Regions from separate parts of the Homo sapiens genome. Here region 1 is linked to region 2. Evidence: fine-mapped expression QTL. A gene starts in region 2. The other region holds a variant in brackets. All regions are shown on one strand. Distances are from middle to middle.

What was found.
Region 1: its variant is fine-mapped to the expression of SLC12A1 in prefrontal cortex (BrainSeq, PIP 0.95).

Annotation. Positions count from the first base shown.
Region 1 is chr15:48,107,551-48,111,953 of GRCh38, reverse strand. It overlaps LOC124903485 (a long non-coding RNA gene), which reads left to right and starts at 1,832. Exons shown (of 2, transcript XR_007064619.1): 1 at 1,832-2,013. The variant T/C (reference allele first, on the strand shown) is at 1,783.
Region 2 is chr15:48,204,002-48,208,404 of GRCh38, reverse strand. SLC12A1 (solute carrier family 12 member 1) reads right to left here and starts at 2,103. Exons shown (of 27, transcript NM_000338.3): 1 at 2,075-2,103; 2 at 266-871. The coding sequence starts at 685.

The DNA of each region.
Region 1 (4,403 bases), 96 kb after region 2:
TTGTTATGTGGAGCCTTCATTACCTCAGTTGCTGCTGTTGCATGGGCAGCTTTCCCTCAGGATCCTGGAACAGGAGGTCAGTATGGGCATCAGCTCGACTAGGAGCTTTCATCTTATCTACTGAGTGTCATTTTTTTTTTTTTTTGTCTCTAACCATCACATGAGTTTCTAACTGGAGCCACAGCCATGACTGAGTGTTGAATGGCATTTCACTCAATGGTTCACATATTCACAAGGCACCTGCCAACTTCCCCAGACCCTTGTCCTTTCCCAGACTCAAGTTAGGCACTAAAACCAGGGTTCAGCACTGGTTTAGAGCATGAGTGAACATTCCTAATTTTCGACCCAATTCAGATTGGTCTAATTTTACTGCTGTATGGCTCCAATGCTGTGAAAATTGTCTAAAACATTTTCAATTCCTAGGAGGTCTTCACTGTCTTCTCAAAGTTATACTTTTTATTTCCTTCACTGGAAGGCATCTTCTAGTCCTCTAAATACTAAGGGGGAGTTTAAATTATTTTGGCAGTAGTCAAGTTTTGCAGATCAAATATTATTTAAAATAAACAATATTTTAGAGTGGAAATAATTTTAGAGCTTGCCAAATCTGGGTTAAAATCTTCCTCCCCATTCTTTCTGAAACAGTCATTGTGGATAATACCATATGCTTTTTAGGCTGTGTGATAAAAAAACAAAAATATCAACCCCTTTTCCCTCTGTACTACTGTATGAGAGCACATTTTATGTTAGTAGAACTTGGCAGAGTCCTTAACTCTCAATGAAACTGAATGCATTGGGCAGGCCATCAGCTGGGGAAAAAATTAACAGATAAGACATTTTCATTAGCTGTATTTACACAGAATGGAATTGGATATTTAGCCTCTGCTCTTTGATACTTGTTGCTCTTACTTCATTTGTGCTAGCCTTACTCTGCCTTTGTTCTCAGAGTTTGAATAAAAGCCTTTCCTGAGTGTTTCAGTATGTGGTGGTTTAAGGAGTGATCTGGAAAAAGGCCTCTTGCTTGGCTTTGCCATTTTCTCCTCTAGCTCTGTTTCATTAGGGGGTTCTGAGGGGGTGGCCAGTGAGAACAAGAAGTGGAGGGGCCCTGACTCAAACACAATAGAGTGTGGAGATTTATTTCCTTCACTTTAATATAATAAACCCCTCAGGGTCTGAGTTAGCACCATCATTTTTCCTTAGTCTTCTATGTGAAGGCTGCCATCCCTGTGTGGGGAGATTAATGCCTCCTTTATTATAAATAATCGGGATGAAGGAATTCATCAGGGATGCTTCAAAATTTGCTGGGCTTAGAAGTTCTCCTACAGGTTTGGAACTCAAAAGCCAAAGAACTGAACATACAAGACTCTGGTCCTGAAGAGAAAAAGCCAACGAATGCTTTATTATAATTCTCTCTGTCCTGGGATAAGAAATGCAAATTACTCAGTGTGCTTTGAAGTCCTTCCTTAGCAATGAGAGAGGGAGGCTGTCATATCTCTGTTGTTGTTGCAGTTGTTGTTGCAGAGGAGGCTGGTGTGGGGCTAGAGAACAAGGAGCAGAATTGACCATAAAGACTGACCATTGTAATCTGAGTAGCTTAGTACATCATGCCCATGCAGTCCAAGACTGTTCCTGGGACTGGAACTATGGCCATTCCTAGTAAGTCTGTCTGCTGAGTGCATGACCTGCAGAAGTCTTTGTGAAAAGGGTCCTTGCGTTTTGGCCTGCTGGGCTGCTGTTTTAGATATGTCCAAGGAATTAGAACTATATTACTTTTTTTCTAGAACA[T/C]GAGGACACACAAATCTCACCTTTTGCCTTTCTCTCTCTCGTTTTCCAGTTCTTTCTGAAACTATTAGATCACTGTGGTCTACATGGACGTGGGCCTCCCAGATCCCCCTTGAGGAAGGAATGTCACCCCAGCTGCTATGAGTGCCAGCTCACAGCCCCTTCATGCACTCCTCAGCAGCAGGGAGCCACCTCACCTGAGGGCAAGAGGTTCACAGGGCAGCCCATGTCCAGGTAAGGCAGGGACATAAAAGCCCAGCCATTTCAGCCCGACACACAGCTCTAGTGGCTAATATTCATTTCGGAGCTGCCCTCTGGTTTAGCTGAGGCTTTGTTGGACTTAACTTTGAAGTTTGACTTCTCCCACTTCCCGATCCTGCTCCCTCTCACAGTTCCTGAGCCCAATAAATATCTTGTACTCCCAACTTCATCTCAGTGACAGCCTCTGAAGAACTCTACCTTCAGTGACTTCATCTCCCTGATAGACTCAGCCTGCTCGGTAGCCTGGTAGAGTTCTATGCTCAGACTTCCAAACTTTACTCTTGATATGTAAACAGTGAGTTTTAGATTTTAGAAAATGCTTTCTTTTTTCCTTCAACAAATCTTGGCTTTTAAAACTGTTGCCCTCTGTGGATAGAAGGAAAAAAATTGCATTTGACACTTGAAGTTGGGGAATGACTCCTTTGTTCTAGGCTGTGTTTGGCCTTTACTTGAAGCAATGAATGCCATTGATTCAATGCGTGGGTAGCCATAAGGCAAAAGGAAATGAAAAAAAAAAAAGTTGGAAGGCATTTTGAAAACATTATCTCCTTTATATCTATATGAAAGAGTTTTGTAAACCCCAGAGCACCAGGCAAATGCTGGTTGCTACTGATGGCAGAGCACTGCGGCAGTGCACTGAGCCCTGGGCTGGCCGCCTCTTAGTCTCCCACAGCAGACCCTGTTATTCCGCCAAGTTTGGGGGTCTGGAAAGTGTGGAAGGGATGAGGCAGCAGCTATGATGGTGGGATTGGCTGTTTTCTAGCTATAATCTTTTTATCTCAGCGCCCCCCCGCCTCGTGTCCTGGGCTTTCTGCCCTCCTTTTGACGCATGTGCTTATTTTTGTGGCTCTGGAGGATCTTTCTAATGAGATTTTCCTCCTGGATACAAAGGGAACAAGAGGTTTCATTTCAAGGGCAGGCTGTCCTTCTCCGCCTTCTGTGCTTACCTTTTGAGCATGACTGCACAGCCATTAAATCGTCCTGCATGTGGACTCACACTCATATCATTGGTGTGGCCACTGGAGAACCTCAAATGAGCAGCCACCTTAGGTTTCCTTCTTAAGGGATGTGGTTTAACTGCAACATTGAGTGTCCGCACGGCACCACCCCGTTAGCAGACTTGGCTTCCCCTGCAGAGGATAGGTCAGCAAGAGAAACATGAACGGGGGCTGCCATGATGGTAGCGTCTCACAGACACTGAGCTTCATAGAGACCAGGTCTTTGCGCCTAGGAGACTGAAGCAGAGCTCAGAAGTTTCAGCAAAGTCCAGGTCTTACTCTCCTGAAGATCCACAGTTTTCTGTTAAAAAAAAAAAATCATGAAAGTCATTTGGCCCTTCTACATGGCAGAGTAGAAGTTTCCTAAAATATATTATTATTAATTATGTATATTATTAATCAAAATAGCTCTTTTGAGCATGCACTGCTCTAAGCATTTACATTTATTATGATATTTAATTCCCACAATAACTTTAGGAGAAATTTGTCACTAATATTCTCATCTTATATATGAGGAAGGAGAGGCACAGAGAAGTTAAGAAGCACCCATTCTTCTGTAGTCCCTAACTGTTCATAAGGGTTTGCTAACTAGGTTTTCAGTTACTGAGTAACTATTCATAGAGCACCTGCTGTATACCAGATGCAGTGCTAGCACTGGAGACAGAGTGCTGAGCAAATAAACATGGTCCATGTAACGTTGGAAGACAAGGATGGTCAGAGTGTGTGGATCTTGATGGACAGTATCTACATATCAGTTTTTTTGTTTTGTTTTGTTTGCAGGGGAATAAAACCTCTTAAAAGCTCAGCTGGGAGAAACCAGGTTTCTGGAACATTTCTAAAGGATGTATTATATGTGGCCCATCTTTCTTCCCCATTTCCAATCTCAGTGAATGATGCCGCCCAGGTTGTCATCTGTGACTCCTACTTCTCCCTTCCCTCACAGCATCCATCAATCACTGAGTTCTGATAACTCTGCTTCCTAAACTTCTCTTGAGTTAACTCACTCCTCTCCATATCCATCACCACCATCATCTGTTGCCCAGAGTTCTGCAATAGCCTCCTGACTTGTCCCTTGTCATCTCTCTTGCCACCCTACAGCCCGCTGTCCTTCCAACACCTGTGTGTCAAGTGGGCAGTTGAATATAGGGGTCTAGAGATCAGAGGTGCAGCCAGGCAGGCAAGGAGAAGCTGGCAAATGAATTTCAGAAACAGGGTCACTGAGGTAGTAGGAAAACCAGAGGAATGTGGTATTTCCAGAGTAGAAGGTGGGCGGCTTTAAAGGAGGGAGCAGTTAGGGGTTAAGATGAAATATGAAACATCCCCTAACATTTGCCAGCACGGAGAACATGGGTGTCTTTCAGAGAC
Region 2 (4,403 bases):
GGAGTTCAAAGCTGCAGTGTCCACCACACTTCAGGCTGGGTGACAGAGCAAGACTTTGTCTCAAGAAAAAAAAAAATCCAAAGAAAAAGCATCTGTGAAACACTTTTCTGGGAACTAGGGACAGTTTTGTAAGTAAGATGGATAGTGTTTGGAATAGACCTCTCCATTTGACTGTTTCACATTCATTCATAGTGTAATGAAAGAGAAGGAAATTATCTGAAGTTATGAATAAGGGAGGAGACTTGCTTGTGTCCTTCAAGCTTACCTTTGCGAGTTGCTCGTGAATCTCAAGCAGGCTGGGTCGGTTGACCTTGGGCCCACTGATGCTGCCGGTGTTACGATAGTACTCTATCTTGGGAACGGCATCCATGGTGTTGTGGCCAAAAGTTTGTAGATAGTATGTGTTTGTGTGAGAATCATAAGCGTGAAAACTGGCATCTGTTTTAGCAGTTTCTCCACTTTGGAGGAAATTGTCATAGCACTCCTGATTCCCAGGCCTAAAGCTGATTCTGAGTCTTTTCTGAGCTTCATCCCCAAAAGAGGTTTCTTCATAATGTGGTGGGTCAGTATTGTCATCTGCAGCTGCACTGCTCTCATGGTTCTCATTTATGACACTAACTTGAAAGCGATTGGTATTACTGGGCACTGAATCCAGAAATACATTGGAAGAGTTGTTCAGTGACATCTTCCAAAATTGATTTTTTACTGAGCTATCTACTTTGTGGTTGTTTTAAAAAATCTATATATTTCTTCATCAAAATAAACACTAATGTGCTTCCATTAGGGAGCTCCTGGCTTTTGTTCTAGATGATTCAATAAATAGATTCTTGATATATTGTCTCCGATATAATCTTCAGGATGTTCTTCAAAGCTGTCATTGAAAAAGAAAATTAAACTTGTTCCAAGTAATACAAATATATTTAGGTAAGGGTGGGATATAAGGGAACAGTTTTATTTTACAAGACATACAATTTTAAACTCATTTCACTAAAATTTATCTGTCCAGGAACCTTAGTCATGTGAGTAATTAAATCTGATAATAAATAACTGGAAAACTGTTCCAGCAAACAGAACTTCCAATGCAGTCATTAAAATGTTACCTGTGTTTGTAGTATTTGCTTGAATTCAGTGCACTGGAGTTCACTGTGACTTTAGAAAAGATGTAACTTTACTTATTGAATACAGTAAGAGCTGATGAGAATATTCTCAGCCTAAGACACAGTTCACTGACAGTACTAAATGCTGAAACTGCAAAGTATTTTGATTGTTAGGAATATATACTATACAACATATAAAATGAAAAACAAAACTTCTAAAAAATATATTCTTGCTAGTTTATAAAAATCTGTACATGTTCAACTTATAAATTCCAAATTTTGTTACCTATGCAACAAGTAAAAAATTATGTTTTAGAATATGCATTTAAAAAATACATCCCATCAAGATGATGTCTCTGTGAATTCTTAGATCTTTTACAAGATCCAAATGTTTCATTTGCTCATACATTTGTTTGTTTTGCAAATACTAACATGAAACCTTAAAAAAATATGAATATAGAAATAAGTCATATATCTATAAGAAATAAGTCATATACCTTAAAAAAGTCCTCTGCTATGTTTAGGTAAAATAATCATGCTCTACTGACTCATTTTAATGAAATGTCTTCAATAATTGAGAGGTTTATATTTGACTGTGAGGTGAATAGACTTCACAATAATTTTCGCAATTTCATAGTACTGGCCTGTCTTAAAACACTTGCTTTAGAATTATATTTCCTTATTGATACCTTAAAATTTGGCTTTTCAAGGGAAGTTCTAGAAAAATGAGATAAATATAAATAAAAACTTGTCTCTCTCATGCAGTTATTAAAGCTGTGTATTTGAATTAAAAAAACCCTCAACTTCATTTCTCAAGTAACCTTTCCTGGGGAAATTATAAATGAAGCTATTATCGTTTTAGTTTTTACAAAACACTTCTCTTCATAGTCCTTGACACCCTCACCTACTCCTCAGAATCTACTTTATGACATAATATTAAGTATGATTTTTACCCTGCCCAGAAATGTTCAACTTACCACCAAGGAGCCTTCTTCTGAGGAAATGTAACCTGCTTCAGCGTCACCCAGGAATATATGGGACACTTAGCTTTCAGCCAGAAAGTTAGGCTTCTGCTTATTGGTTAGAAACTTTCTTGAAAGAGATGACTGTGCAATGATTGGCCTGGAATAGTACTGTAAGCCCCACCAGGTCATTAGCCCTGAGGAAACTTAAGTACCACATCAACTGGTAACTAGTAGTAAACCATTAATCCTTTTAGACAGGAAGTAACATAGAGTTTCTTTAATTCATAAGGAGAATTGGATCCCTTAACAGCAATTGTCCAAAAAATATGAGCATTGCCATTAGTCATTTGGGAATAGATAAATTGAGTTCCACCGTCTTACAGATGAGTCCTAGTGACCTCCTATTGTTTAGCATGTGTATCAAAATATAGTTCTCCAGAGACAATTTCTATACTCTGTAACTAGAAAGTAGTGTCTGAAATGATTTTATCTTGCTTGTAGTAGACATTACCTTGACTCTTTTGCATGGGAAGTAAGCAGATTAAGAGTGGAATCAATGATTTATTGAAAATATTTCTATTTTGGGAAATATGGGAAAATTTTTTTTTTTTGAGATGGAGTCTCGCTCTGTTGCCCAGGTTGCAGTGCACTGGTGCAATCTCAGCTCACTGCAACTTCTGTCTCCCAGGTTCAAGTGATTCTCCTGCCTCGGCCACCTGAGTAGCTGGGATTACAGGCGCCCACCACCACGCCTGGCTAAATTTTTTTGTAATTTTAGTAGAGATGGGGTTTCACCAGGTTGACCAGGCTGATCTTGAACTCCAGACCTCAGGTAATCTGCCCGGCACAGCCTCCCAAAGTGTCAAGATTACAGGTGTGAGCCACCGCGCCCAGCAGGGAAAACTGTTTTAAGCAGGAACCAAACTGTGGGTAAGCATCTCAGTGGCACTACTAAATGACCTTTCTGTCTCCAACTAGAAAAACATTTTTTTGTCCAACTCAGTTTTTGAGTTTTGTTGAGGAAAAGGTTTTTCTTTTTCAGATCTGCAAGTAGGTGATTATTAACACTGCAAACAATTCCTCCCTCAAGTCTGTCACTGATTATCAATCAGGATGATTGAATGAGTCCTCTTTGTTTCTTATAAGAAACGATTTAAGTGATTTCCAGTTGTCTGAGTAGCTCGGTTGTGGTGTAATATAGTGGCTAGGAGCAAGACTCAAGTCAGAAGGCCCAACTTATGTCGTGGCCCTGCCACTTGCTGTCTGTGTGAACTCAGTCAAGTTACTCAATCTTTCTGTGCCTTAATTTTCTCATCTGCAAATGCAGTTGTGGATTATAATTGTACCTACCTTGTTGTAGAGTTATTTTGAGGAATAAATGAGTTAGTTTGTGTATGGGGTTTAGAACAGCAACAATTTGTACCTAGTGCTTGCTTTCACTATTTTAGCGCTATTTACAATTAGCTGGGGATTTTTACTTAGCACATACAAGATTGTGAGGTGAATCATTAGAGATTGGGATAGATATTTTGTCTATAAAAAATAAGTGTAAAGGTAAGTTAGTGAACTGATACAGGATTATAGAAGTGTCTAGAGACACCTAAGTAAAACCCTTTAGATCCTCTTCGTTAAGTAAATGTCATGCTAATCAGTCAGGCTAATGTCGTGAGGCTATATCAGAAATAGAGACAGAATTACAAGTATATACCTATAACTCATTCCACTCTTAAAGGTCACCAGTACAAGGCATTTATCTGTTCAACAAAGGGTTCTGATTCCTCATATAGAAAGTGTTTTGGCATAGGAGTGTCCGATTTCAAATTCAGCTGGGTGGGGCTGGTTGTTTAGATCAAGACAAAGAACAGCTAGGATGGGGCTGGCACCCAAAATAAGTTCTATTCACCAGACCAGGACAGGAGCCATAAGCTGGCATCCTCCAACCCTTTTTGGAGCCACTTATTTACTCTACAACCTTTTTCCTCTACCAATGACTGTGAATACCTCTGATACCAGTCAATTTCCTTTTTCTTGCTGACTGACTGCCTGACTTCAGAGTGGTATGAATTTGTTTTAGTCTTGGTCTTATATCAACCAGACATTTTCATTCTAAGCCTTTTATCTCTCACTGTGAAATGAAAGTCTTTGTTCTCTTTTAAGGGGATTCAGGCATCCTGGAACAAATGGGAGACAGTTTTGGGGGATATGGATGAAATAACACCATCCATAAAGCCAACCTTGAAAGGTGAATCCGATTTAGGCCTTTCAGACAAGCGGGAAAGGTAACAGGAGCAAGCTATCTTGAGGTATGCTCCTCTATCTTTCCTCTGTCCTCTCTGACAAG